2 separate regions of the Homo sapiens genome follow, and region 1 is linked to region 2. The links come from fine-mapping of genetic effects on gene expression. A gene starts in region 2. The other region holds a variant in brackets. All regions are shown on one strand. Distances are between the middles of the regions.

Region 1 (15,723 bases), 33 kb after region 2:
CTTCACTGACCTCCCCTGGGCCAGCAGGGGTTAGCGGGAGCCTGCCTTTTCCCCACTGCGGATAGTTAGGGGGGCCGAGGGCACCAGCCCCTGGTTGACAGGGATGAAGCCCTGCCAAACTCCCGCCCCCTCCCTGCCGTGTCCTCGTGAAGTGGGAGTGAAGTGCCACTGGGGCCAGAGGGGCTGTGCCGAGCATGTGGCCCCAGCTCCACCTCCCACCACACCCTGAGCAGGTCGGGAAGCAGAGGCCGCAGAAGTGACAGCGTGACAAGGCTGGGCGAGTCTCTTGGGAAGGAAAGTGATGCCAAATTCTGGGGTCAGAGGTCGAGCAGATGGGCACTTACCTACCCAGAACAGAGTGGGTCAGTGGCCTTGCTCAGGCATGGGCAGGCAGAGGCTGGCACTTGTCAGGGGCCTGATGGGGTTCCCCTCATCGTGGAGGCCTGTTCTCCCCTCTCCTTTCCAGTCTCTATGTTGCCCAGAGCCTCCTGGCCTATTCCCCCACAGGCTGGGAGAGAGGCAGATGGAGGCCAGGGTCTTCTTGGGAACTACAGTGTAATGGAGGAGGTGAGGCAGACACACCAGAAGCATGCAGGAAAGTGGGTCACGGGCTTACCTGGTCATTTGTGGGCTGGTTTGCCAGGGCTGGGGCTGAAGGCCAGCTGGGACAGGCACTGAGCAGGCCTCGCAGGCTGTGGAGGCCATGTCGGGGCGGAGTGCCCAAAGCAAGCGGGGCCATCTGGAGAGGAGGAAATGCCTGGGCATGGGGTGCACTCAGTGGCTGAGCAGGTGGAAAGACAGGAGCTGGGAGTGGGCGTGCCCGGCCGGCAGGGACAGAGTCAGACAAGGTGGAGGGTATGGGTGCTGGTGGCAGGGCTGGGCAGGGCGGGGTAGGGGTGTGGTTGGTGGAGAGCTTTATAGCTAATGGTTGGGAGTTTTAATTTTATTTAAAGGGCATTTAGGAGTCATAATAGGCTCTTGAGAAGGGAATTTATTTATGTATTTATTTATTTATTTATTTATTTTATTGTTTTGAGACTGAGTCTTGCTCTATTGCCCAGGCTGGAGTGCAGTGACGCAGTCTCGGCTCATTGCAACCTCTGCCTCCCTGGTTCAAGCGATTCTCCTGCTTTAGCCTCCCAAGTAGCTAGGACTACAGGTGCCCCCCACCATGCCTGGCTAATTTTTGTATTTTTAGTAGAGATGGAGTTTCGCCATGTTGGCCAGGCTGGTCTCGATCTCCTGGCCTCAAGTCATCCGCCCGCTTAGGCCTCCCAAAGTGTTGGGATTACAGGCGTGAGCCACCGCGCCCGACTTGGGGGTTGATTTAATTAAAGCTCTATGTCACCAATCTCCTCCTCTGAGCCAGAGCCTGCTTTCAACACTTTACAACTTTTTTTTTTTTTTGAGATGGAGTCTCACTCTGTCGCCCAGGCTTGAGTGCAGTGGCGTGATTTCGGCGCACTGCAAGCTCTGCCTGCTGGGTTCACACCATTCTCCTGCCTCAGCCTCTCGAGTAGCTGGGACTACAGGCTCCCGCCATCATGCCCAGCTAATTTTTTTTGTATTTTTTAGTAGAGATGGGGTTTCACCGTGTTAGCCAGGATGGTCTCGATCTCCTGACGTCGTGATCCACCCGCCTCGGCCTCCCAAAGTGCTGGGACTACAGGCGTGAGCCACCACGCCCAGCCTCACACTTTACAACTTTTAACTCGCTTTGTCCTCCCAGCCACCCCAAGAGGGAGGCACTGTCATCATCCTCATCCTATTTTATAGACGAGGAGAGGGCTGCGTTGTATATTGAAGGTCACAACTCTGTGGCCGTTTGAGTAAATCAAGGCACTGGGACCAAAGCCGGGTCCAGTCCTGTCCTCCACCCGGCAGCAGGGGCCTTCTGAGCCCCTGCCCCTTCCTGGAGGCCTTGTGCTTGGGTCCAGCTTTGCCCTGCCTGGGGTGATGGGAGGGGATAGGGAGGTCTGAAGGACAGAATAGTCAGCTGTAGGCCCAGGTCTCTAAGCTTCTGGGTCAGTGACTTTTTTCTGTGGCCCCTTTTGCCCTCCTGGCTCAGGCGAGGGGAGGAAATGCTGTGATCATTGTGTGAGCTCAGGCACCTGTATGTAGCCCCCAGGCTCTCTCCTTGGCCATTCTGCAAGTAAAACTCTAAAAGTCCAGACTAGAATGGACCTGAGAGCATATCCTGCTTAGTGGCTTTCAAACTTTGTTTGTTTGTTTGTTTGTTTGTTTTTTGAGACAGAGTCTAGTTCTGTCACCTAGAGCTATTTTGGGAGGCCAAGGCTGGCTGGAGTGCAATGTCGCAATCTTCGCTCACTGCAACCTCCACCTCCCGGTTCAAGCAATTATCCTGCCATAGCCTCCCAAGTAGCTGGGATTACAGGCATGCACCACCACGCCCCGCTAATTTTTTGTAGAGACGGGGTTTCACCATGTTGGCTAGGCTGGTCTCGAACTCCTGACCTCAGGTGATCCAGAGCAGCTGAAAGCTGCTGTGGTTGACATTGCCTGCAAGCCCACTGAAGCCTGCCCACTATGGCCACCTCCCCTCATCTGGGGTCCCTGAGGGCTTCTGGAAACCCACTGAAGAGCACTGAGATCCCCCTCATTGAGCACAGAAGGAGAGGAGGGTGACAGAGGGAGGGGACGGGGCTGCAGCCTGTGTGCCATTGGTGGTGGCAGGTGCCACCTCCCTCTCCAGTCTCTGTGGGGGCAGGGGATGTTGGCCCTTCCTGTCACATACTAGAGCTCTGCAGAACCTCTTCCCCTGGGGAAAGAGCTCCTGTTACGAAGTCACTTGATCCCTGCTTGCTTCCGAGATGCCCGGGGTACAGTCGAAGGGAAACCCAATAGCCCAGTTGGCCAGCCTGTGCCCTAGATGGCCATGCAGCTTAGGGAGGTGGCCCACGAAGCCTCCCCACCTTTGAGCAGCAGGCACCCACACCAGCCAGACCCCGAGGGCCAACCCACAGCCTGAGGAGAGGAGGCAGCAGGACCAGGGCTCAGGGTAGGCTGGGCAAGGGGGCGGGGGCCCCAAGAGGGGAGGCATCAGGCTAGGTGTGCCCACTTAGCATATCATTAACAGCTTCATTAGGGGGCCCCTAATGAAGTGGAAGGTACTAATTCTTCACTGAGGCGTTGCCAGCACCCAGACGGAGTCTCCTCTCAAGGAAGTTCTGAGAAGCCAGAGCGCTGGGATTCGTGCTGGGAGCTGATGAACTGCCTGGCAGGGGGGCCATCTGGGGAGTGAGGTCCCAGCAAGTGGCTCCTAGGAGAGGGGGTGACTCTGGGGGGAGGAGCAGAGGGTGGGGCCAGTGGAAAGCTGGAAGGGCAGATGGGCTTAAAGGGAGGGGGGACCGCTACCTCTCAGGGCATCCTGCGTTTGAGCTGGGAAGGGGCCTGCAATGAGACACCCTGAAACTCAAACATGCAAGCTGATAGATGCGGGGCATCCTGGCAGGATCTCAGGCTTTGGAGTGTTCTAGAGTCTTGTGGCCTTGGGCGAGAACTCTGTGGCTCAAGCTGTCCCAGGGGTGTTGGGTCCCCTCTCCCTGGGTGGTTGTGGATTAAAGGAGGCAGTGCCAGTGCGGCCGTGCTGGGCTCCTAGGAGTTGGAGCTCTCCCTTTCCAAGAAGGCAAGTCAGAGGATTATGCAGGCTGGAAGGGTGAGGGCAGGTGTGGGTCAGCCTGCTCACCTGTCTGTTTGGGAAGATTGACTTAGATCGCGGAGAGTTATTGCCCCTGCCATGCAAGGTGAGGTAAAGGTTCTGCGCACACTGGGGAGACATGGTTACTAAATCACAATGATGGCAGCTCCTGTTTTCTAAGAGCTGAGCACTTTATGTGCGTTATTTCGTTAACTCCTCATGACTCACTCACTATGAAGTGAGTACCTTCATTATTCCATCTTACAGATGAGGAGACTGACGCTCAGTGAAGTGACAGTCATAGACAACTAGAAGTGATGGAACTAAGATTCAAATTCGGGCTGCCCTGCTCTGGGGCCAGAAGGCAGGCCTCGGTCAGCTCATTGGATGGCCACCCCCTCCAAGTCGATGCCTTTGAGAGAGTCGCGTTCCCGGGAGAGTGGGGTAAAGACGTGTTAGGGCATGAGGGGACTGACCAAGAAGACCACCGGGGCAGGTAGAAAGGACGAAAACCACAGACACCCTTCCCCACAGACAGGCAGGAGAAAACAGCCTGGTGCCACCCAGTGTGGGGCGGTGTCGGCCTTTGCGTGAGGGCTTGGAGATCCAGGCTGCCCGGCCGCACCCATCACAGAGGCCAGCAGAACCCGCCTGTCTGGGCCTCTCCAGAGGGGATGTGGACGTGTGGGACAAGGGCTTGTTCTGAGTTTCAGAAAAATGAATAATCTCCAAGGAAGAATCCAGAAGCCAGACCTGGTCTGGCCAGAGCCTGGGGGACTCCTTCCACTGTTGGAAAACATTGTCGGAGCACAGGACTGAGTGGGCTCTGATGTGAATCCCCCTGGGAAGAGAGGTCAGAGGAAGGCTGGGGGCAGGAGGAGGGCCCAGCCTGGTCGCCAGGGAAGGGTGCTGCTGCCCTCCTGGCCCTCACTTCCCGCTCCCCAGCAGCCAGCCATCTTTCCAAAATAACCAGCAGGAAACGAAAGGCCTCAATTGATTCCCAGGGAGTTGGCTGGTGTCAGTAGCAGGGCTGGTGGCAGATGGCAAATTCTGCTCATTGTGGATGAGTAGAAAATAATTAGCGTGAGAACGAGTAGCTGGAGCCTTGGTAATAAATGGAGCCCTGGTGAAGCCTTCTGGGGAGAGGCCTGGAGCACAGGCCCTGCAACCTCAGGCCTGGCTCTGCCGCTGAAGAGCTGAGTGGCCTTGGGCAACTTATTTAGCCTCTCTGGGCCTCCATTTCTTCATCCATAATACAGGGCATAAGAGGTTGTTAAAAGGATTACATTAAAGGAGGTAATTTTTGTGAACTGCTTGTTAAAGTAACCAGCATGTAGTAAATGCTATATAAGAGTTTGTTTTTAAATAAACACGATCGAGTAATTGTTGGAACTATTTCTGGGTCCGGCCCAGGCTGGCATTGCCCCCAAGTCACTGGAGCTTCTCTTTCCGTCCTCCTCCCTGAACTCTGTGCCCAGCTCCCTGACTGCTGTTTTATAGGGGAGGGGTCTCTGGCCAAGAAGCACGAGGAGGGCACAGAGAGAACACAGCAGGTAGACCTGGCTTCAGAGCCTGACTTGGACACTCACTTGCTAGCTTCTTTAAATTCTTGGAGCCTCAGTTTCCCGATCCATGACATGCGAACAGCTAGACCCACCCCTGGGGTTGTAGTGAGGATGGTTATGTGGCTGGCACATGGTGAGGGGTGGAGGAGGTGCCTCCTCTGGTCCTTCCAGGCCATCCTGGGGGAGAGTGGGAAAGGCGTTTGTTAGCCTAAGACCCTGGGCGGCGGGTAGGAGGGGACAAATGTCAGTGGCCTCCCACTCCTGCCCCTGGCTGCACAAGGCACACTGTTTTCATCCCTAGGCCTGGGCGTGTGAGGACCTATCTCATGCTGAAATCTGGCCCCAGTCCTGGGCAGGCTCCGCTCTGCCTTCTGCTCTAGCGCAGCTGATGTGTGAAAAGCGACAGCTTTCAGGCCCCTAACTTGGGTTGCACACACCCAGGTACAGGCTGGTGGCGCACGTGGCCCCCAGCCCACACGTGCTTTCTCTCCGTCGTCTCCCTTGTCACCTCTCCCCTCCTGTGCTTTCAGAGGCCAGCCTCTCGGCCACTGGGAAGAAGGGGAAGGTACTGTAGCCCCGGGAGCCTGGGGTGGGACCTGTGGGTCCTACTGTCTCTGTGTTTGTGACAATAAGGAGTCAGACTGACAGGCAGAGAGGGTATTTTTTTCTTGCAAGTAGTTCAAGGAAGCTACTTGAAATCCCAGCTCTGCGATGTCCTCGTGGAGGGATCTTCGTGCAAACCATTTTGCCTCTCTGAGCCTTGGTTTCTTCATCTGTAAAGTTGGGGTAATACCCTGTGGCCTGATGAGGCTGGAGGTGGATGACACATAGTGTTTCTAGTGCCTTGCTCTCTCCCGACTCCACAGCCTGCTCCGTGGAATTCCCCTGGGCTCAGTTTTCCTCATCTGCAGAATGGGTCCCGTGCTATCCCACATGATTGTGAGTCTGAAGCTAGATGAAGACCCAGAGAGCTCCTCAGTCTGTAAGAAGAGGCTTAGAGCCAGCTTTTGAGTTCAGAAACAGGCATTTAGCTGAATCCTGCTTCTCAGAAACAGCATGCAGAGGTAAAGACCTGGGTTCTGGGCCTAGGCTGTGTGGCTGTGGGCAAGTCACTTCAGCTCATCTGTCAAATAAGGGGAAGGGTAGTACCTACCTCACAGAACTGTTATGAGGACTAGGTGAGTTCATGTTTGTAAAGGGCATAGATGTGCGCCGAGACCTTGTAGGCAATTCATAAATGTTAGGAGAACCGAAGCAGCCCAGTCCCCAACTTATAGGTGGCTGAGATCATTCTGTCCCTGTCACTACCCAGGATCCTGGAGCCTGCAGTTTCACCAGTGCAGAGAGGTTAACTCGCTACCACAGTCCTGCAGCCACAGTGAACAGCTGGAATCTCACCACGACCAAAGCCTGTGCTAAAGAGAGCAGGACCTGTCTGCCAGCCCAGCGAGGCCAGACAGCGACCTGCTGGTGAGCCCACCCTAGCTGGGGTGGAGCCTCTGAACACAACGCCTCTGCTGGGGGGCGGGCCACCAGTGTCCTGCGGGGCACCACTGGGGGGCCCAGCCTCACTGTGCTGAGTCCCGCAGATCAGATGCCCACCCCCAGACCAGATAAGCTCCAGTGCCCAACAAGGCACATTCAAAATCGGATGGACCACGAGAGCATAGCAGGCAGTAGGCATCAGTTCCTCTCCACTATTTTGGACCACCTTCCAATTTCAAAGCCCTTTCACATAGGAATCCCATTCGTCATGGAAATGGGAGTCCTGGGCTCTCCCTTCAGGACACCAAGGGTCAAAAAACCCTGCAGAGCGAAAAAGAGCCCTTACAAACTTGCCAGTTTCCACATTTACTTTGGCAACCAGGAAGTGTGGCGTCCAGTGCTAGTTTTACATATAGCAACCGTGGGGGCCCTTATGTCTCACATGTGTGCAATGGACTCATCCTCCC[G/C]GCCCTCAATTTTGATTTACTGGGGCCTAGAGGGGTTGGGACTTTCTGTCCTGGGGACACTGCTCTTCATTCAGCACCAGGCAGCTCTAGGATGTGGCTGGACCTGGTCCCCATCACCAGCCCCCAGAGGCAGGAGTAAAATGGGGGCCCAGGGAAGGTGGCTCTCTGGATCTGTCTGAGAGTCTCCTCTCTGTCACCACAGCTGCTGCAGAGCAACAGGGACTCCACCGCTGGAGGCAGGAGAGCCAGCCGCAGGTGACTGAAGTAGGCACATGGTTGATGCCTCCCTGCAGGTTTATCTCCTGTGAGGGAGCTTCTGTGGATGTTGCTGGCTTCTAGGAGGGTTAGGCATCTTCAAGATCGTGAAAGAGAGGATCTCAGCCCAGGCTCCCTGTGGTGACACGCTACTAATGCTGTTGTCACTGGGGAGTTTGAGTGGGGTATGTAGTGAGGTAGAAGGGAGCAGGCTGGCTTGGGGGCTTGGGTTGTGTGTCCAGCACCTGGCAGTGACGCTGCTGGGATGGATATCACGGGAAGAGCTAGGGCCTCTGTGTTCTTTCTGAACCTCAGTTTCCTCGCCCATGAAAGGGGACAGTGGGACTGTTCTGAGACTCCTTTTAACTCTGACCTTTGTTAGGTGTGGGCTTTGGATGGCAGCAGGAATGACCTGCGCCTCCTGCCTGCCTGGCCTCTTGATCCTCGGATGGTGTCAGGCAGTCTCTGCATCTCAGTCTCATTCTTCAGTAGTAATAGTAATGGCAGTGGCAGCATTTGCTGAGCAGTTACCAGATGACAGGCGCTGTTTGAAGTGTTGACTGATTTAACCCTCCTGATAATTCGGAGGTAGGTACTCTTCTTATCCCTGGTTTAGAAGTGAGGAGACTGAAGCACAGAGAGGTTAAGTACCTTGTCCAAGGTCACACAGCCAGTAAGTGGCAGAGCCAAGACTCAGATGCAGCCTGTTTTAGAGTGCAGGGTCTTAACCACCCCTTGCACACACTGTGGAATGAGAGCGACACTGCGACCCTGTGTTACTGCTGTGAGGACTGAAGCCGGTTAGTCCAGGACTTGGGACACAGAAGGTGCTCAGCTAATGTCAGATGGATCCCTATGGCTGGACCTGGCTGTCATCCCCTCCTTCAGGCACAACCTCTATCCCATCCCCAGGCCAATGACCAAAGCCATCTCTGGCCAGATGGGAAATCTCATGGGCTGGAGGTGGCACTCGTGGGGGTTCCCAAGCTCATTGTCCAGTTCCCTGTGGACACTCCAGAGGGCTGAGCCAGTACCTTCTTCCCCCCCATCCCCCTGGGAGCTCTTGGAGCCCCATCTGCTGGGAGTCTTGCTGCCAAGGGACTCTGCTCCTTAAAATCTGCTCCCAGGGCCAAGCCCACAGGGTACCTTAGGACGAGGGGGCGAGGCCCAGCCTGGGGTGCTTTTACCAGCAGCACCGGAGCACTCATGGTGGGGGCAGGCTCCTCGGTCAGGGCTTCTGTTTGCTCACTCCAGCCCTTTCTGACCAGCTGGGCACCAGCAGCACCTTCCAGACCCCAGCACCCAGTCACAGGTCACATCACAGGAGGTCCCCACAAAGCCCCTCAGGTGTCTGCTAATGCAACAGCAGCCATCAGCAGATCCTTGGGGTGTGCAGGACCTGTGCAGAGTCCTGTAGTGACATCACCCCAGTCTGTTCTGACCACAGCCTTGAGAGGGATGTTGTTAGCCCCATTTTACAAGAGAAGAAACTGAGGTCCCAGAACAGTTCATCTAGCCAGAGGGGGGGGAGAGGGTTCTCCCTGAGCTGTCAGGGAAGACACTGGGGTGGGAACCCAGCCTGACAGTCAGGAAGGGAGGGACGTTTCCCCAGAAGGGAAGGGTGTGAGCTCAGAGGGGGAAGGAGCCACTGTCTCAGCCCTTGTGACTGGGAGGGGAGCTGTGCTGAGGAGGCCATGGGGTGGGACTGAGGTGCTGGAGCCAGGCACTGCAGCTGGCACCCAGAGGTGTGGCGATGGGTACTGTGAGACCCTGGCCCCGGGGACTGTTGAGCTGGGGTGGGGATGGGCAGCAAGGAGTCAGCAGGTTAACCGTAACACAGTGTGACCAGGGCCATGCTGGGGGAAGGGGTCTAGGGTTCCCATAAGGGAGCAGCCTGTTTCCCAGGAGGAGAGTGGGTTGCATGAGGGCTGTCAGGGAGGGCTTCAAAGAGGAGGTGACTTTTAGCTGACCTAGAGAGATGAGTTGGATTTCACCCATCAGAACTGGAGTAAGCAAAGCATGGACCCTTCCAGTGATGTGTTTCTGGGGAGCAGCATGTTTGGGGTGTCGAGAAAGAAGGATGTGGCAGTGTAAGAAGGTGCTGGAGAGCCTCTCCAGCCAGAGGATTTGTCAGCTGAGGGTGGGCTCTGTGCTGGAGTCTGTCTGCACCAGGATCGCTTTCTGCTCAGGTGATAAGGGAATGCGTGGATTCAGAGAGGGCGAGGCATATGCCTGAGGTTGCACCGCCTGTCGCTGCCGCCCGAGGGGCTTGGACTTTGTCCTGCAGGCCATGGGGAGCCAGGAAGGTTTTTAAAGTAGGGGGCAGCATATGCATTTTTAAAAAGAGTTTGCATTTTTAGAAAGAGGAACTCCCAGAATGGTTAGTACTTAGTCCAGGGGCCTGAATCACCAGCAGGAAAATTGGGCTGTGTGGGTGGGGGAAGAAGGAGGCTTCCTTGGGCTGCTTAAGTCATTCCATCCATGTGAGAGGGGTCCTGGCACCCCATTCACACTTGCCTGTGCTGGGGGTCCAACCAGAGGCAGGAGGAGCCCCCAGCAGTGCCCCTGTGGCCCCTGCTGGAAGGTATGCCGTGCCTGCCCTGGAAGCCCCACTGGTGTGGGATAGGAAGGGCAGGCAGCGCCTACCCCCGCCCCACTGTGGCTGTTAGAGGGGAGGACCCTATGCCCCAGGGGAGGAGAGCCAGAAGAGGTGCTTTGTGGCAGCCCCAGACCAGGAAGTAGCCTCTGCCCTCCCCGCTCCTGAGACATTTCCTCCAGATGAAATCACATCCCCAGCAGGGGAACAGGCCCTTATTGTGATGGGCCGGGGTCTCTAGAGAAAGGGCACCATTCAAGGCCCTTAAAAATAGCCCCAAGAGATGTATGAATTGGCCTGGAGAGTGGTGCAGCCCACCCCCAACCCTTATGCAGCACAGGCCCTGCCACCCCCACCCCAGACCTTGACTTGTTGGTGACCAGCCGGAGATTCCACCAGCCCAGGCGGGAGGGGTGGCTGGTCCAGCAAGGGGTTCCTTGCACTCCCTCCGCCTCGCCCGCCCCAGCTAAGACAGCTAGAGCCTCTGCAGACCTCTCATGTGATTCTCACCAGGACTTTAGGAGGTAGGGATAATCGACATTTTACAAATCGACATTTTACAGTTGAGGAAACTGAGGCACGACTAATAAGTCACACAGTGGGTACGTGGTAGAGCCCAGGTTCAAAACCAGCCAGCCTGGCACTTGTGTCCCAGCCTCTGTGCCTCGGATTCTATGGTGGTGGGCCGGCCACTGGTGCAGGCCTGTCACTGGGTACCCAGCAGGGTCGGCCCCCAGGAGCCCCGCCTCATACTCTAGGTAGGTACTGCTGTTGACCATGGCAATTGGCCTCAGGCTGGTCACCCTGAGGTGGGGGCAGTGGTTACCACTGGTCATATCCCTCCAGCGTCTTGACAGTCCTTCAGCCACCTCACCTCTGCAGGGCCCAGGGCCAGGTTCGGCTCACTCCTTCCAGCCTGAGAGCTGAAGCGAGCGGGCATTGTTCGGGCAGAGGAGGGGAGTGCAGAGTGAGTGTGTGTGTTGGGTGGATGGTGTGTGATCTCGAGGAGTGTTAGCTATCCTGGGTTCCATGGGTCCAAGGGTGGGAGTGAGAGGAGGGACCTCCCAGGGTGACTGAGAGGGGCCATCCATGGGGTGGACCTGAGAAGGAGATATTCTTGGCTGCTGGCAGAGGCAGGCCTGGGGGCAGGCTGGGTAGGGCCAGACCCTAGCCCTCCAGCCAGCCCCTCTGGGACAGCACTGCTCCCTCCTCCCCTGGTCTGGCCAGATCAGAGCAGGATGCGGCTCTACAGCACCTGCGGGGGCGTACTGCCCCCCCAGCCTCTAGATTCATTCCATTTCATTCTGTTCCATTCATGTGAGGGGCTCCTGGCAGCCCCGACAGCCCCCTGAGCCCGACCCAGCGCTGCACCTTACCCTCTGTGAGCTACTTGGAGACAGGGAGGGGGCGGCAATACCAGCTGTTGGCAGCTCTGTTCTGCCCCAGCCCAACTGCCACCCACGGTGCCCCAGCCCCCCCTCCTGTCCTATCGTGTCCAACCCTAATCTGAAGCTGGTGCTGTCAGCCACATGTCACAGGCACTGCTGACGCCCCGGACCCCTGCAGTCCACAGACCACCCCCCACCCCCAAAGCCCAGCCACCCCACCACCATGCTCCCTCACTCTCCACCCTTCTCCCTGCCTCCCAGAAGCTGAGCTCCGACTCCTCCTTGGAGAGAGAGTGGGATGATGTCACTTCCTGAGGGTGGGGGGAGGAGTAGGCACGACCCCGGCAGGCTAGCCCGCCAGCCCGCCAGGCCACAGCTCGCCAAGTGGCTGCACCGGGGATAGGGAGGCGGGCCGGGCGGACATGCGGGCTGGCCACCTGGCCCCACGCCCTCTCGCCCACCCTGGGGGCTATGCCCACTGGCCAAGGGAGACTTGGCTGCTTCCTCCCCGAATGATGCCGGGCTCCTCGGACACACATTTTCCCTGGAGCCGCCACTGGGGAGAGGAGGATCTGCCGCCTGCCCCGGACCAGGTGCCATGTAAGCCTCTACTGGCCCCCGGCGGGGGACAGCTGCCCACCAACTTGGTCCCCAGCCCCCTGCAGCAGTTTAGTGCAGAGCTACCCTGGAGCCCTTTATGGGTATCTCTGGGGACCTAGCTCCCTGTGGGGTCACCTCCCACCCATGCTGCTTCCTTTCTCTTTGGGATGCTAAGGAGTGAGGGCCCTGAGTTCCTGGGCACTCTTTCCTGAGCTTGCTTGGGGCTGATTTGAATTCAGCTACTTCAGAGAGTTGAAAATCCAGCTGGAAAAGCTGCATGGCTCAGGGTGGGCTTGGGAGGTATGGTTGCCAGGAGGGGTGTGACCCTGCAGGGCTTACCCCATCCTTCCAGCAGTGTGGGGTGGAAGGTGTCCCAAGCCCTACTCCTGACCCTGCACCTCAACCGTGCTCTTCCCTCCCTGGAGGCATAGCTGTGGTGGGGACTTCTGTCTGATGGGTTCAAAACCAAGTCATAGAGCACGCTCTTGGCTTCCAGCAAAGCAGGAAACTGAAGCCTTCATTCAAGAAATACTTACTGAGCACCTGCTCTATGCCAGGCACTCCTCACCTTCCATGTTTGTCAGTCCCAGCTGCCAACCATACAGGGTCCCTTGCCCCCACCTTCCCAAGGCCTTCAGCCTTCCTCCTGCCCTGCTGGGCTTTGTGCTGTTGGGTGGGCTTGTTCTTGGTCTGGGAAGCCCCTCCCTTGACTCCAAGGACAGTGTGCACTGGGCCAGGTCTAAAGATTATAGGGTTTGAGGGCTGGGCTGAGGGTCCCACTGATCCCATGAAGGAGGAAACGGGGTCTTTAATAGAGCTCAACAGTGACTGCTGGGGTAACCCCAGGTAGAAGCCGATCCCTAGTGGCCAGTACCAGTCTCGGGGGACAGGAGAGACTCCAGGGGGAAGGCTGAAGTCTGTGTCCTGCTGCTAAGGTCCTTTGTGTTGGCTCCTGCCCGGAGGTGGGTCAGCACTTCCAGTGGCCAGCTCCAAAAATGCCTGTGCTTCTGGCCACACCGGGGACTGGTCCCGTGGCCCAAGGAATGCAGTGGCCCTGGGTGCCTTCACCTCCTCAGGCAGCTATAAGGTCCTCTGCTTTCTTTCAGGAGGTGAGCACCAGGCCCACTGAGCCTCTGCAGAGCCACCAGCCATGCCCGGGATCGTGGTGTTCCGGCGGCGCTGGTCTGTGGGCAGTGATGACCTCGTCCTACCGGCCATCTTCCTCTTTCTCCTGCATACCACCTGGTGAGTCCCCAGGCCCGGGGCCACAGGCCTGGGTTTGGAGAGAAAGGTCTGGAAGGACGCTTTCTGGCCATTTGTTCCTCCCTGCTTGGGCCCAAGTCCCAACCCTGTCATGCCCCCAGCTGCCCGGAGGAGGTGCCTGAAACATCTAGCCCCTTAGGGCAATGACACCCCTGCTACCATTGCTGGACCTGACCCCAACACTGGGGGGAGTTGCTGCTACTGTCTCCCCATGGCTGACCCTGAGTCTTTTACTGGCCGCCCATGCCCTTCTAGGCATTCGATGCCAGGTGGACAATGGTCTTATGGAGGAGGTGCCTGCTGCCAGCCCTCCTTCCACTGAATCTGGGCTGGGGAAGGGCCTGCCTGCTAGTAGCATCTCGAGGTACAGGGGCCACCTGGCCTTGCTCACACGGGCGTTCCTGTGACAGGTTTGTGATCCTGTCCGTGGTGCTCTTCGGCCTGGTCTATAACCCGCACGAGGCCTGCTCCCTGAACCTGGTGGACCACGGCCGCGGCTACCTGGGCATCCTGCTGAGCTGCATGATCGCTGAGATGGCCATCATCTGGCTGAGCATGCGCGGGGGCATCCTCTACACGGAGCCCCGTGACTCCATGCAGTACGTGCTCTACGTGCGCCTGGGTAAGGGCCACCCACCCTGGGGTGCTGCCCCAGACAACTCCCACCTCTCCATTCACTCAGCCAGTATTTACTGCGCACATGTTGCGAGCCAGGCCCTGTTTTAGCACTGGGGTACAGCAGTGAACTAAGGCCTTCTGTAGCTTACATTCTAGACTAGGGGCCAGCAAACTGCAGCCTGAGGGCCAAATCCAGCCTGCTGTATGTGTTATTAAATAAGGTTTTAGGCTGGGTGTGGTGGCTCATGCCTGTAATCCCAGCACTTTGGGAGGCCGAGGCAGGTGGATCACAAGGTCAGGAGTTCGAGACCAGCCTGGCGAACATGGGGAAACCCCGTCTCTACTAAAAATACAAAAATTAGCCAGGTGTGGTGGCACACGCCTGTAATCCCAGCTACTTGGGAGGCTGACGCAGGAGAATCACTTGAACCCAGGAGGCAGAGGTTGCAGTGAGCCGAGATTGCGCCACTGCACTCCAGCCTGGGTGACAGAGCAAGTCTCCATCTCAAAAAAAAAGAAAATAAGGTTTTATTGGCACATATCCATTCAGTAAGGTATTGTCTCCAGCTGCTTTGCCCCTACAGCAGCCGAGTTGAGTAGTTACTACAGCGACTGTAGGACTCCCAGAGTCCAAGATATTTGCTCTCTGGCCCTTTACAGGAAAAGGTGCTGACCCCATCCTCAACCATGTGCATCTCTTCAAAGCATATCTTCCTTGTGATCCTTCTCAAAACAGGCCTTCTGCTTCCTGGGAACCCCCTCAGGAGTCTGGGCCAGCTCCCCAGAGGACCAGCCTGTGTCCTCTTCTTGGGCTTAGGTTGCAGCCCCTTCTGGTCATTTGTAGTGAACACTGCTCTTGTGCTTCTGTGCACTGGGCTAGGCCCTTTTTCCTGTGTTAACTCACAGGGAGTGGGTGTTATTGGTCTCCGTTTATAGATGAGGAAACTGGGGCCCAGGCCTAGCTCTCACACAACTAGTAAGCGTGTAAATGTCGGAGCTGGGATTTGAACCCACGCTGTCTGGCTCCAAAGTCTGGTCTCTGAGCTGCCACACTGCTGCCCGTGCAGCTGGGGCTTTCCAGGCTGCCCCCATGAGGCCAGCAGATCTCCTTCTCAGCCACCACTCCATACCCCTCCCCTCCAGTCTCAGCCCCTGAGGGGCCTGAGCTGGATGCAGACCAGCTGCTGGGCCCTTCCTCTCTCCTCCATCAGGTTCCAGAGGCCTCTTGCTGGGAAATAGTTTCCATGAAGTGAACACGCTCTCATCTAATTTTTGCACAGTCCTATGACATAAATGTTGTCACTCCCATTTTACAGATGAGGAAATGGAGGCTCAGAGAGATTAGGAAACTTGCCTAAGATGTGTCTGATTCCACAGTTCAGACATGATTCTGAGATCCTGATAGAATGAGGAAATGGGCCAGGCGCGGTGGCTCATGCCTGTAATCCCAGCACTTTGGGAGGCCGAGGCGGGTGGACCACTTGAGGTCAGGAGTTCAAGACCAGCCTGGCCAACATGACGAAACCCCGTCTCTACTAAAAATACAAAAATTAGCTGGGCCTGGTGGTGGGTGCGTGTAATCCCATCTACCCTAGGGACTGAAGCAGGAGAATCTCTTGAACCCAGGAGGCAGAGGTTGCAGTGAGTCAAGATCACACCATTGCACTCCAGCCTGGACAACAAGAGCAAAACTCCATCAGGGATGCCCCGGGGACTTGAGAGCACAGAAGCTAGGAGAGGTGGTGGGCACATTGCAAGCGGTCATTCAGGGGCCAACAGGACCAAATGGTGACAGGACGGGCTTGGGGCCTGGGAGGCGGGGGGTGGG
Region 2 (13,444 bases):
GTGCTGGTGATACCCAAACTAATGGGGATTAGGCAGAGGTGGAAAAAACTCCCAGAGCTTCCCCTAGGAAGCTGTCAGTCCTTGTTCTCCTCCCTCTTGTCATGACCACCAAACTGCCATCACTGTCACCACCTCCAGCATCTCCTCTGTCACCACCCCCATTACAACCACTACCACACAGATTTTTGAGATTCTGACTGAAAATTGTGTTTACCAGGTAAAAGATAGGGGCTTGTAGGCGCCCCTCTGGCAAGAGAGAACAACTCGTCTCTTGGTGGTGGGTAACATTTTAACCCCTGGGTTACCAGCAAAGCCTTGTGGTCCAGCTCCCACTTCTAGCCTGTTTGGTCCTGTGATCCATTCATGTTACCTTATAGCAGGAGGGACAAGGAAGGCAGGGAGAGAAAAGTTCTGGCAGTGCAGGGAAAGTCGCTGTTTTCAGAAGCAAGAAGGTCTGAAATCCTACTAGGAGAAGCCCTGGTGATCCAGAGCTGACTCCAGGTGTCCTGAGGTCCATTTCACATGGATTTGCTAGACCTTGCAACTGGCTAATTTCTCCCTCTGTGACAGTCTGCAGCCTAGCCTCCAGAGCTTTTCTCTGGCCTCCCCAGACAGGCTGAGATTGTGCTATTTGGGTAAACAACATTCCCCGCGGTTGTCAGAGACAGACTTATTTACCTGGTAGCAGCAGTTCCTTCCTACCCACCTCGTCAGATGCATCAGGACTCAGGGTGGGAACCAGCACTCATCACATTCAAGGGTGGAAGACCCAGCATCGGAGGGGTGGGCAACAGACCTCACACATACTACGGGATCCAGGGCTGTGTATTGCAAAGTCACATTCACTGTTTAGCTCGGAGGCCTCTCTGGACTTTCTACGTCTGGGAATAAGCTAGGCTAAAGCTATCATGCCCCAGAGCTGTGATTTCATCCAGTTATCCTATACCCTGCAGCCAAGCTAAAATATAGTCACTATATCTCCCTCGGCCATGAGCAGATACTTTATACTTTAAAACCCTGCATGCTTTGAATTCCCCTGACTGCTTAGCCAAGGTGTCATATTGGCTCCCACTATCTCAGGCAGTGAGGAAAGGTGGTCACTCAATCCCTGCCTCCACAGGGCAATACAGTCAGGGGATGGTGCTCAGCTTAGGAATTCTGCAGTTGTCTTTCTGCAGGCAGCTCTACCCTACTGCAGTTACTGACCAAGCCATCCCATCCTGCAGCTGCTGGGAGCTGAGTTGGGGCAGGGTACAGCTGTGCCAGCTGTCGGAGATAGATTACACTATGAAGCTCGGCTGTGACTCACATTCCAGCACAGGGGAAATGCGCAAAAGTTCTATGCTGTCTTTGGGGTGCTAAAAATCATCCTGGCTTTGTCTTGCAAGATGTTCGGCTTGCGGAGCATGGGGCAGATGGAGGACCCTTCCATCTGGGTCCTCCATGGGGAGGAGGCAGGGGGCAGATCTGTCTCCAGCCAACTGCCTGTCACACAACTGCCACAGCTACTAATAACAACACTCAGCATTTAATCAGCCCCTTTGTGGATGCAGACGCTGTCACACTCATTAATTAGTTAATCTGCACAGCCCCGCAGGAGGAAGAGTCATGTTATTATCCCCACTGGGACTCAGAAGGAAACTGAGGCCAGAGTGGGAACTTGGCACAGAGCGGAGGGAGCACAGCCTGACAGCTGGACTGGGACCAGTCTACGACTTGTCTGTTCTGGTGCCCTCGCTCTTGTCCTCCTCCCCAGCTCCTGTCTGCTCACAGTGCTGGTGACTATCTCCAAAGACACCTGGCCAAATGCTGTCAGAACTGGGCCTGAAGGTGCTCAGAGAGAAGGCCAGGCATGGCTTTGGCGTGGAGAGGATGCACCTCTGGTAGCTGGACCAGGTCAGGTCTGTGGGGAGTGTGTGCTCTGGAACAGCCACCCTTTCTGATATGTTTCTTCCAAAGCGTCTTGGAACTAGAAATAGAAGTGATGAGGGTGCCCCTCTCTCTCATCAAAATGCCTGTTTCCTGTGCAGGCGGCTCTGGGTTTTGATTGTGTGTCTGGTGGTTTTAGAATGGAAGGGAGGAGCAAATCCATCAGGAGGCACCATTGTGGTTCCACTGGAAACTGGGACTGGCCATCTGGGGATCTTTGACACACGCAGACACACACACACACACCATGGGTAGAACCCACACCCCCGTGAAGGACCTCTTACATCATTGTACCCAGTGGTCGATGTTGCTGGAAGCCTGCTGAGATGCCTTACAGCCATGGCTCAGCCCTCAAGAAGAAGGCTTAGGTCAGTCTGTCAGGCAAAGAATCCTGACTGAATAAGAATCGGGCAGGAGACCTGCAGAACACAGAAATAAGGCGTTAGAGGATGGAATTCGCTAGTACCTTCTAGGAGTTTGTGACCAATTGCAAAAATAAAGACTGCAGTCCCTCCCTGTCTTTCCTTGCTTGTTACTAGAGTTGTTGAAGATTAAATAGTTGACCATTTCCCCCTTTAAGAAAATATGAATCACAATTTGAAAATGTTTTTGTTATCTTTCCTTTTCCTTTCACCTAACATTTATGTGTGTATGTATTTTTTTGAGAGGGAGTCTTGCTCTGTCGCTGGAGTGTAGTGGCGTGATCTCGGCTCACTGCAACCTCCGCATTCCAGGTTCAAGCGCTTCTCCTGCCTCAGCCTCCTGAGTAGCTTGGATTATAGGCGCGCGCCACCATACCCAGCTAATTTTTATATTTTTAGTAGAGACGGGGTTTCACCATGTTGGTCAGGCTGGCCTTGAACTCCTGACCTTGTGATCTGCTTGCCTCGGCCTCCCAAAGTGCTGGGATTACAGGCGTGAGCCACCACGCTGGGCCTATTTTTTTTTTTTTTTTTTTGAGACGGAGTCTCACTCTGTTGCCCAGGCTGGAGTGCAGTAGCGGGATCTCGGCTCACTGCAACCTCCACCTCCCGGGTTCAAGCAACTCTCCTGCCTCAGCCTCCCGAATAGCTGGGATTACAGGTGCCCATCACCATGCCCAGCTGATTTTTGTATTTTTAGTAGAGATGGGGTTTCACCATGTTGGTCAGGCTGGTCTTGAACTCCTGACCTCAGGTGATCCACCCGCCTCAGCCTCCCAAAGTGCTGGGATTACAGGTGTGAGCCACCGCACCCGGTCACCTAACATTTATAATAGTGGTGTTTCTCAGCCTTTCATGTGCATTCAAATCACCTGGGAATCTTGTTGCCAACCTGAGATTCTTGGGCCTGAGATTATGCATTCCCGTTAAGCTTCTGGGTGGTGCCAATGTCTCACTCTGAGTAGCAAGAGTTCAAAGGATTTGGTGATGGTAAAAGTAACCCTTTAATTCAGTTAAATGACCAGATGGGATCAATCACCTTGAAGATCTTGAAATAATAGTAGCCTCATGACATCAAGTGTGAAGGTGACTGTTGGTACTTGTCTGGTGAAGACAACTTTGGAGGAATGGGAAGAAGGACTGGCGTGTGTCGGGACACATGTGTGCACATGGACACATGTGAGTTTGTGTACATGGGACAGCTAAGGGATGGATCCGTAGTAGACAGCCTTTTTTTTTTTTTTTTTTTGAGATGGAGTCTGGCTCTCTTGCCCAGGCTAGAGTGCAATGGCACGATCTCGGCTCACTGCAACCTCTGCCTCCCACGTTCAAGTGATTCTTCCGCCTCAGCCTCCCGAGTAGCTGGGATTACAGGCACCTGCCATCATGCCAGGCTAATTTTTGTACTTTGGTAGAGATAGGGTTTCACCATGTTGGCCAGACTGGTCTCGAACTCCTGACCTCAGGTGATCCACCTGCCTCTGCCTCCCAAAGTGCTGGGATTACAGGCATGAGCCACCGCCCCTGGCCGACAGTCTTTGGACTGGCTGTTCAGGTCATGATTCTCCTCCTCTGGGAGTGTCTCTCAACGGGGAAAAGTGGACTGACATGTTTGTATCACAAAGCACTTTCTGCCCTGGCCATAGCTGATTGACCGTGGCCTGATCTGGACTAATAAGATTCTTTTTTTCTGGGAATCGGGAACTTTGAACCAAGAGACATCCAATCTGGCAGTTTTGATTCTGATTAATGGCAATGATCTAGAAAGAAGATCCCTAAACTGATACTGCTACAGTTGTCCCTTAAAGCCTCCCCTGATCTCTGCCCTTCCTGAGCCTTGAGGAATTCAACTCCTCCTTGAATCCCCTGAGGTGCCCCACTGGGTATATGCGCCCACTCCTCATTTTCCTTGTTACCTACGTGAGTTTGCTTTCTAAATAATCACAGGTAACACAGAACTCCTTCCAGAAGTGGCTCCATCTGCTTCAATAAAAGGCAGTCCTGGCCTCACAGTCTCATTTCCAACCCAAATGTCCACGTAATTTTCAGACCGAGGCTTCTGCTCAAGCCGGGCACCCCACTACCCACACCTCCTTGTTCACCTATGGCTCCCACTTCTACTGAACTGCGCGATCACTGTGATTTTGGGGGTGGCAACAGGGCCTAGGAAACATTTTAGAGGCACTTCTCTTGCCTGAAAGAAAACGTTCTTCCCCTTTTTGTCTCTGATGAATCTTTACTGGATCTTTGGGACCCAGCTGAGTCATCCCGACCTGCAGACTGGACTCCCATCCCCAGGCTTAAATTCCTTTCCAAGGGCTCTGTCTGTCCTCTCGGCTTAGCTTCTGTGTTAAAACCCCCTCCATCTGCGTCTCCTCCCCAGCAGAATGAGCTCCTTGAAGTCAGGGCCCGCCTTCTGCTCCTCTCTGTGCTCCACTCCCCCAGTTCAGCACAGTGCTCCCAGGGAGGTGTAAGCGACTTACGGTGAATGAAAGGGCGTGAAGGGGAACAGGAGGGGCGGTTTTCTTCATTTACCAGAAATTCAAAATTGACCAAGTAAACCCCTTTGGAGACCAGGCACGATGCTGGGCACTGGGAACGGGGGTAGGGGTGGGGGGTGGGGGGGTGGTAGGGAGGAGGGGGTACCCAGGGTACCCACGGGCTCTGTCGCCCGTGGGGAAGGATGGGCATTTACCCTTCCCATTCATCAGGATGGGAGGGCCACGGACTCCCCCCACGGCAGTGCCGGGTAGACCCCTGCACCACACCGTGCCAAGGCCCTTTCTCACAGTCACGCCAGGAACTCTAGCCATGCTCTGACTTCTCAAGCAGAGTTCAGTCACCCCGAGGAGGTGGGACCCGTCTCTCTCCTCCCCACAAATGAACCAGTTCTCCAGTGATCCTACTTCCTTTTTTCCCTCTCCCACGCTAAAACTGGTCACGAGGGACCTAAAGGAGGGGCAGGCACCCAGGCGGCTCCCTTCCCCGCACGCATCGCGGCCAGTCCAGCCCCTCCCGGCCGCCCACGGGACCCCAGCCGAGCCTGAGCCAGGCGCCCACCGCCCCCACGCGCAGGGCCGGCGCCCGCGGAAGACTCGGCTCTCCCTGGCCTCGACGCCGCTCCCCTCCCTGGCGCCAGGGGGCGCTGCCTCCCCACGACCGTCGCCATGGTCACCGCTGGCGGCGGAGAGGGGTTTACGTAAAGGACGCAGCGTCCCCCGGGGGGCGGAGGCGGCCTTCGCGCCGGCGCCGGCGCCCTGCGGAAGCGGCGTTAGTGAATCGGGGCCTTGGGGAGCCCAGGATGGAGGTGGCGGTCGCGGCGGCGGGCCGAGCCCTGCGGCGGGCGGGAGGTAAGGGGGGCCTCCGGCGCGGCGGGCCGGTCCTGGGCGCGGGCGCGGTGCGAGCGGCGCGGCGGGCTGGGCAGTGTCCAGGGCGCGCGGTGGCCGGCCCGACGGGTCGGCGGGCGGAGTTGCAGCTGCCACGCGCGCCCGTGGCAGGTGTGAGGTCTGTGGAGCCCCTGGCACCAGCGTGGGGATGGTGACACGCGTGGCACGGGCGTGGGCAACGTGGGTCCGGCACAGGCGGCGTGGTTTTCCTGGAACGGGTCTCAGAAGACTCGCCTCCACCTTGGTGCGGTGGTGGCCACGCAGGTGTGAGGTGGTGCAGCTGTCTGCACAGGTAGGTGATGGGCACGGCCTTCGGACTGGTTATGGGATAGGTGGCCAGCTCGTGCCGGCATGGTGGTGCCGCTAGCATGGGTGTGAGGAAGTGCTGCCATTGCTTGGGTGTTGGGATGGTTCTGGCCTTGGGCTTGACATGATCTGGGGTGATAGCACTGGGGGCTTGAAGAATTGGTGTTCTCAGCATGGCTAGAGTTCCTGGCATGACTGTGAGAAAGGGCCTTGGCACGGTGTGGTGCGGGGGGCTACCCGGCACTGCCGCGGGGGGAGTCCGTGGCCCTCCCATCCTGATGAATGGGAAGGGTAAATGCCCATCCTTCCTCACGGGCGATGAAGGGGACACTGCCTCTGTCATGGGGGTCCAGTTTTAATGCCTGTTGGGTACACTGGACTGAGGAGGGCAGAAGGCTGGGAGAAGGTTGGTGTCCTTTATAATGGGCATAAACAAGAGATGCCAGGAGAAGCTTCTACCACAAGGGCCCTGATGGTAACCCAGATAGAGACCTTCCAGGCACTACCGTTGTCCTGGGCTAAGGTAGAGAGAACCATTCATCTAGCTTTTCATCTAGCTTTGGGAATGAAGGGAGGGGTGGATGATTTTCAGTGGTGATCGGTGTCCCAGAATATGTCCTGAGAAGCAAGCAGGACCAAGAGGTAACCCGGGTCAGCGAGTGAGGGAGTGGTATGGCGCACCATCTATCTGTAGTCACGGGGTCCTGCCTTCTCCCTGGGTTGATGGGTTCACTCCAGGGTATCTGGGAGTTGCCTCTCTTCTTTGATGCTGGGGAGCCTTTGGGTCCAGAGGATTGGATCGATTGGGGTATGCTTGAAAGATGATTCTGCAGCCACTGGGAATCTGCTGGGGCCACCGGGACTCCCACCCCCAGGCTTAAATTCCTTTCCAAGGGCTCTGTCTGTCCTCTCTGCTTAGCTCCTATGTTAAAACCCCTCCATCTGCGCTGAGATTGTGTTTGCTCTCACCAGTCCTTTGGGAAGCTTTGGGTGAAGGTCTCACTCAGCATCACCTAGTGCCTTACTTTACAGAGAAGCAATTTGCAGCTCCTCCTAGAGAAGTCTTACAGTGTAGGGGAAATCTTCAGTTCTTTGTGGATCTCTTGGGGGAGTGGGATCAGTGGTAGAAGAATCACAGGGTTGAGCTTGTGCTGGGGAAGGCACTTATGAGTCCAAAAAGATGATGTTGAGGGTAGGGTGGCAGGTGGTCGCCAAATTGCCAAGGTGGGTGCTTGGAGATGCTGATGAGTTCCCTATAACCGGAGCACTGTCCGATGCCTTTGGAGCCATATCACTTTAATTCCAGTGTTGGCTGTGTGACCTTCAGCAGGTGACTTCACCAATCAAGGCATGTCACATGGTGGTCTGGTAGTAAAGAATGAAAGGAAATGGTGCACGTGGAAACACTTTGCAAACAGCGAAAGACTGTACAAAGGTCAGAGAGTCTCATCAAGTAAAGAGACCAGGGCTGGAGGCAGGAGCCATAGGAAATGGTGGCACGGGATGTGATTGGGAGGAAGGGAGCCGGAAGGTTGAGGGCCTGTCATAGGGAATTAGAGGCCCTGAGCGCACATGCTCCCGGTGGGGGCAAGTGGGATCTGTTGACACTGTGAGTCAGCTGCTGAGCTGGAACCAGGCCCCCGGTCTCCAGAGGACAGTCCTGAGCATGGCCCCGGCAGCTGTGAAGTCCTGCAGGAGTGGCCCAAGCAGGAGGAAGCACTTTGCTTGGGCAGCAGACGTGCCTCATTGCCAGGGTAGGTCTGGGAGGTGTCTGTGGCTGACAGATCTAGGGTACCTGTGTGGGAGGAAGACTTGGGAAGTGTGTGTGTTTTCTCTGGAGAATTTCCTTTGGCTCTGGGTTCTGAGAACGGGGGTGGGGAGCAGTCACATCAGCGTCTTTTGGGCTGTGGCCTGAAGGAAATGAAGTGGGTCAGAGCATCCACAGATCGATGTGGCTCAGGTCTGGATGGTTCTGCGGGAGGTTGAGGCTGGATGGCAGGGGGACGGGGGGGGGAGGTGTGGAGGATGCCCTCAGACACATAGGGGAAAGGAAAGGGGGCTACAGGCACCTCTGAGGGCAGACAGGTGTGGCACCTCTCCCAATGTGGCCCCACTTCTGGCTGAAGTGCCTTCCCAGGTGGGGAGGATGAGGGTGGCTGCACAGTGCTTTGCTCTCTGCCACCAGGAGCCTAATTCCCGACAACAAGCTGCAGAGCCTGAGTTGCAGACCCTGCCCCATGGCGCTGGAAGTCCTGTTTTTCTCTCACCCAGGCCGTTTCTTCAGCATTCCATGCGGGTGTCTGCCTTAGCCAGCAACCTGTTTCACATCCTTGCTCCCCGAGGAAAGTTTTTGCCCTGTGCCCAGGCTGCAGTGTCAAGCCATGTGGGTGGAAGGAGGACACGGCCCTCCCAGACCCAGGGTTGTGAGCTGACTTTTCCATGCTATGGACTCGCCCTGTCCCCGTAGCTGCCACGCAGACACTGTCCAGCATTGCAGGTGCTTCCCTGGTCATTCCCATGTTGGTCTGAGGGGTATCCATGGCCTGTCTCACCCGCTCCCTGCAGTGCTTCATACCTCCCCCGAGGAGTTGCTGGGCACTTCAGCTCATGTCTGGAAAGCTCTCTTAAGTGCAGAGTCCATTAAGGAGGAAGCCTACAGCCTCCCTGTTGTGAATATTCAGTATTCAAGTCTCCTCAGCTCACCCTCCACACCTCCTCCTGTTTGTTCTGATTTGTGGCTCAGCCTTATGGTTTGGGGCTCCAGGAGCCCTTTTCAGCCACCCTTTGCCTTCTGCTTGGGATGCTGGGACTGCCCACCAGAGCTGAGTGGCAGGCAGGGCAGATCTGAAGACACTGAGAGGAGGAGTTGGCCTCTGTTCCCCAAAAGGAGAGCTGAGCTTTCTTCCCAGTCCTGGGGTTTTGGGGTAGCAGGGAGCCCAGCCAGGTTAGCACCCTTGTCATTGTGCACAGATGCTGATTTCGAGTAAGTTCCAGCTGAGGCAGGGGGCCAGTCACTTAGGAGTGGACCTCGAGGGCAAGCAGCTCCCTGGAGCTACAATATTTCAACTCTGGTCCCCAGTCATATTCCCATTTTCCTTGTCCATGTTTCTCTAAAAGTTGCTTTCCTCAGCTCCTGGCAATTCCTCAGCTGCCCCATAAATCACAGTGCCTGGCTGCTGTGCTTTAGGGGTGCCGGGGAGCCAGGCATCTGTGGCCAGAGGATGCTGGACCAGAGCTGACAGCAGCGGGCCAGAAGGCTGCAGCTGAAGGCACAGCTTGTCACTGGAAGCCACTCCTCCCCCAGTCCCTCTCCTCGAGACCAGAGGGGAACCTCAGTGTTTAATCACCTGTTGGCCCATCACTCTGTGATTTCAATTTCTCACCGGAATAGCTTTACATTACACTCCAGTGGACTGGGCAAGTAGCGCTGGGGGAAATATCAATGAGCATGTGGTCAGAGGAAGATAAATCTTTTAGAACCGCGGAGCCCAGGACATTGCAGGATGCGGTTACCTCCCCAGCGGATAGGGCTGAAAATGGTTTATTTTGATTTTCTTTTTTTGTTTCTGATACTGACTTGGGCTGGGCGTGGTCTTTCTGGGTTGGATGGGAAGCGTGAGTGTGGGTGTGGACGTGGGTTGTGTGTGTGGGCAGGAAAGACCCAGGAAACTGCCTTATCTGTGAGGACCTCTTTGCTGCTGAGGAAGGAGTCCAGGGAGATGCCGTGGAGGGGATTGGTGTGACCACGGGTAAGGGTGTTTTCATGGGGTGTTTGGCAGGAACGCCTAAGTCCTCTAGATGGGGATGGGGCTGTTATTACCGCGGGGCTGCCCGGGGAGTGCACGTGTGTAAAGTTGCTTGTGCCCATAAGTGTTTCTGTGGGAAGTGAGGGCGGAGGGGGTGTGGAGCGCCTGGTGGTGTGGGAGCGCGCAGGCTCCCGTGTCTGGCTGGCCTGGTGTTGGTGGGTGTGCGGAGCTGGGGGTTGCCGGGCTCTTCACAGCAGGAGGGAACAGTGGGAGTCGGAGGAGGCTGCCTTCAGGCTGTGGGAGGGCAGAGGGTGGGTTTCATACCTCATGTTATGACTCTTTACATGAGGAGCCGAGTGCTTTCTCAGTATTCCTTAGAAGGAAGCTGGGCTGCAGGCGGGGCTCTCACACACCCTTCTGTGTGCTACCTGGGGGCGTCTCACACGCCTGCTTCCATGCTCCTCCTTGAACCACCTGGAAGTCAGCTGGGGACAGTCCCCTCCCCCCCATGACAGAAGATAGCATTGTAGCCCATGGGTAGTTATGACTTCAGACTCTGGAACCTCACGGACCCAGATTGGATGCTGGCACACCTCAGTTTCCTAATCTGTAAGATGGGGACAGTAAAACCTCCGAGAGCCGAATGGCAAGAATTCTCCCAGGTAATGCCTGGTGCGTAGAGAGATCCTGATGAAAACACGCACTGAAAAAATGTTTTTGCTCTTGCGGCCGGAATCCTTTCCATAGAGAAGTGGTTATGTCGTGATCTGCATATATTAGCAGTAGGGAAGATGTAATGGGTCTCATTACTTGATAAGAAGTTAGCTCCCCACATCCTTGGGATAGACAGAATCTTGCATATCTGTTAGCAGTGTCATCAGCAAGAGTATATCTTAGCCTTGAGGAATGTTTCCACTTGGACATAGTCGATAGTTATTTCTTGAGCGCCTGCTGTGAGTTGGGGGTTAGTGAGGGCATGCAGATGAGGTGGTCATACCAGAGCCTATAAGGTGTAGATTCTGACCTCAAGTTGCTTAAAATCTGTTGAGAAGATATAGTTAATTTCTAGAAATGAGTGATGCCAGAGGTCAAAGGAGGGAGAGTGACTCGAGCCAGGGAGGTTGGGGAGACTCGGGTGGCCACGGCCTTTTTATGTGGGCCATGGGTACCGGTGGGAGTGAACAAAGGAAGGTGCTTGTAGAGGAACTGGCAGCAACGGGGGCGGGTTGGCGGGGTGACTGGTGGCTGGGAGGGGAAACTGCTGCCCGTCTGTTGTGTGCTGTAGGGCGCATACAACAGAAGTGGTGAAAGCTAAGATTGGAAAAATGAGCTGGAGCTGGGTCCCCAGGAGCCATGATGGCAGGGCTGAAGGTTTGGTTTCCAATCTGTGAACGCATGGGCATTCACTGAAGTGTTCTGAGCAAGGGTTTGGAGGCTGGTGCCACCCACCAGGAAGAGTGGTATGGCAGCAGGGTACTGAGGGACAAGAGTAGGGGGTGCCCAGGTACAGAGGGCTTGAACCAGGGCAGTGGCCACTCTGCAGGGGAAAGGGGAGAGACAAAGCCTGGTTGATTATGGAAGGGAGACAGAAATCATGAGATTGGTCAGTGTGGTCACTAGGAGGGGAAGGGGTGGGAAGTGGGGCCAGGAAGCTGAGCTGGGCCTCGGAATCGCTGCCTAGAATGTGTTGCCCACACTTGACTTTCAGCGGGTCTGACTCCCGTCAGTGCTGGGCGGGAGTGTGAACGGCAGGCTTTCAGGGCTGCCCTCGAGGCCGTTCCCATCCCTGAGGACCCACTGAGGGGGTTCCAGTGTTCACAGCACTTATTTCCAGGCATTTGATCATTTTCTCACCAAATTACCCCTTGAAATTTCGCCTGCCTGAGTTCAGCCCAGGAGGTTACTATTCTGGGAAGTTTCATCAAAACCTTTTCAGTGTTTGGGAGTTCTCTGAGCCTGGAGGAGGATGGAGGAGAACAGGGCTTGCCCTCACCTGTGTTTGGGGGCTGCTCCTGCAAACCAGTCCTACACCTGGAGACGGTCCTGGCCAGGGAGCCTGCGGCTCTGGGGTGGAGGTCGGGACGGTGGCCCTCCGCTGTGTAAGGTGAGACAGGATGCTGCCTCGAATTCATCCTGAATGGGCCCCTCGTCATTGTCTCTCCTGGAGCCATTTAATTAATTGATGATTGATGTTCCTGGACTTCCTTGAGGTTAATCTATTATTGATGTCCCTTCGTTTATATAACATATGCTGCACCTCCCAGCCCCTGGCTGCTCCTGATGGGCAGGCCACACCGTGGAGTGGGCTCCCTGGGGCTGCACCTCTGTCTCCTGGGGACAGGGCCCTGCACTTAGCTTTCTCAAAGCCTTTCAGGTTTGGGGTCAGGGAGGGCACCAGGGCGTGTCTTTAGGAGGCTTTGCTCAGCCACAAAATAATACTAGTAACAATAACTTCCATTTTCTGAATGTGGATGAACTGAACCCAGGAGAGTGTATAGAGGATGTCATTTACTCCTTGCAACAGCAACCCCCTGCACGCTCCCATCCCTCCAACCTCCATCTTACGGGCGGCTTAGGGAGCTTGCATCACCTGCTCAGGGACACTCAGAGAGGCAGGGAGCCAGGGTTTGAACCCAGGATGGGTTCTTTTTGGTGTCCCTGTCCATACGCCACCTCTCCCTCAGGTCCCACACAATCCCACCTCCTCCATGAGGCCATTCTCCATGCTCCACTGACTCTAGCACTCTTTTTTTTTTTTGAGACGGAGTCTCGCTCTGTCACTCAGGCTGGAGTGCAGTGGTGTGATCTCAGCTCACTGCAACCTCCGCCTCCTGGTTCAAGTGATTCTCATGCCTCAGCCTCCCTAGTAGCTAGGATTACAGGCACGTGCCACCACGTCCGGCTGATTTTTGTTTTAGTACAGATGGGGTTTCACCATGTTGGCCAGGCTGGTCTTGAACTCCTGACCTCAGGTGATCCACCCGCCTCGCTCGGCCTCCCAAAGTGTTGGGCTTACAGGCATGAGCCACCGCGCCTGGCCAAACAAAGGCATCTTGTAGCACTCTCTTATCTGAATAGCGCTGGCGCCCCTCAGAGAGAGCATGTGTGTTCCCCTCACTGATCTGTGTCCTCACTGAAGCATAACAATCATGGCGAAATAACATTTAGGGAGCACAGGTGCCAGGCACCAAGCTCAGTACTTTTTGTATCTTCTCTCATTTAATCCTCATGACCATAACAAGGAGCATGGGACTGCTGGGCCTGGAGTGTTCCTGGCTCTGCTGGGCAGCTGTGAACAAGTCACTTTTCTTTTGTTAGCCTCAGTTGCCCTGTCTGTATAATAGCAGCAATGATATTTGTCCTGTCTCCCTCACTGTTCAAAGGTGACACTGGATGGGAAAGGCCTTTGGGAAAGACATTGTACTAACAAAGGATTAGGGATGGCTGGGTGCGGTGGCTCACACCTGTAATCCCAGCACTTTGGGAGACCGAGGCGGGCGGGTCACGAGGTCAGGAGATCGAGACCATCCTGGCTAACATGGTGAAACCCCGTCTCACTAAAAATATAAAAAATTAGCCGGGCATGGTGGTGGGTGCCTGTAGTCCCAGCTACTTGGGAGGCTGAGGCAGGAGAATGGCGTGAATCCGGGAGGCG

Direction of the effects. Alleles are on the strand shown, and positions count from the first base shown. SD is a standard deviation of normalised expression in the study named.
As copies of C replace G in region 1, the expression in testis of the gene that starts at base 5,588 in region 2 goes up (small effect, 0.39 SD a copy in GTEx).

The links.
Region 1: its variant is fine-mapped to the expression of DAGLA in testis (GTEx, PIP above 0.99). The same link has a PIP of 0.9 or more in tibial nerve.

What each region holds. Positions count from the first base shown.
Region 1 is chr11:61,706,992-61,722,714 of GRCh38, forward strand. DAGLA (diacylglycerol lipase alpha) reads left to right here. Exons shown (of 20, transcript NM_006133.3): 2 at 13,121-13,259; 3 at 13,688-13,899. The coding sequence starts at 13,165. Among named protein-coding and RNA genes, the nearest start is that of DAGLA, 34 kb to the left of the region's middle. RefSeq lists enhancers at 8,023-8,809, 8,810-9,595, 10,382-11,167, 11,168-11,954, 11,955-12,740 and 1 more. The variant G/C (reference allele first, on the strand shown) is at 7,176.
Region 2 is chr11:61,674,804-61,688,247 of GRCh38, forward strand. DAGLA (diacylglycerol lipase alpha) reads left to right here and starts at 5,588. Exons shown (of 20, transcript NM_006133.3): 1 at 5,588-5,701. RefSeq lists enhancers at 7,785-8,459, 8,460-9,133.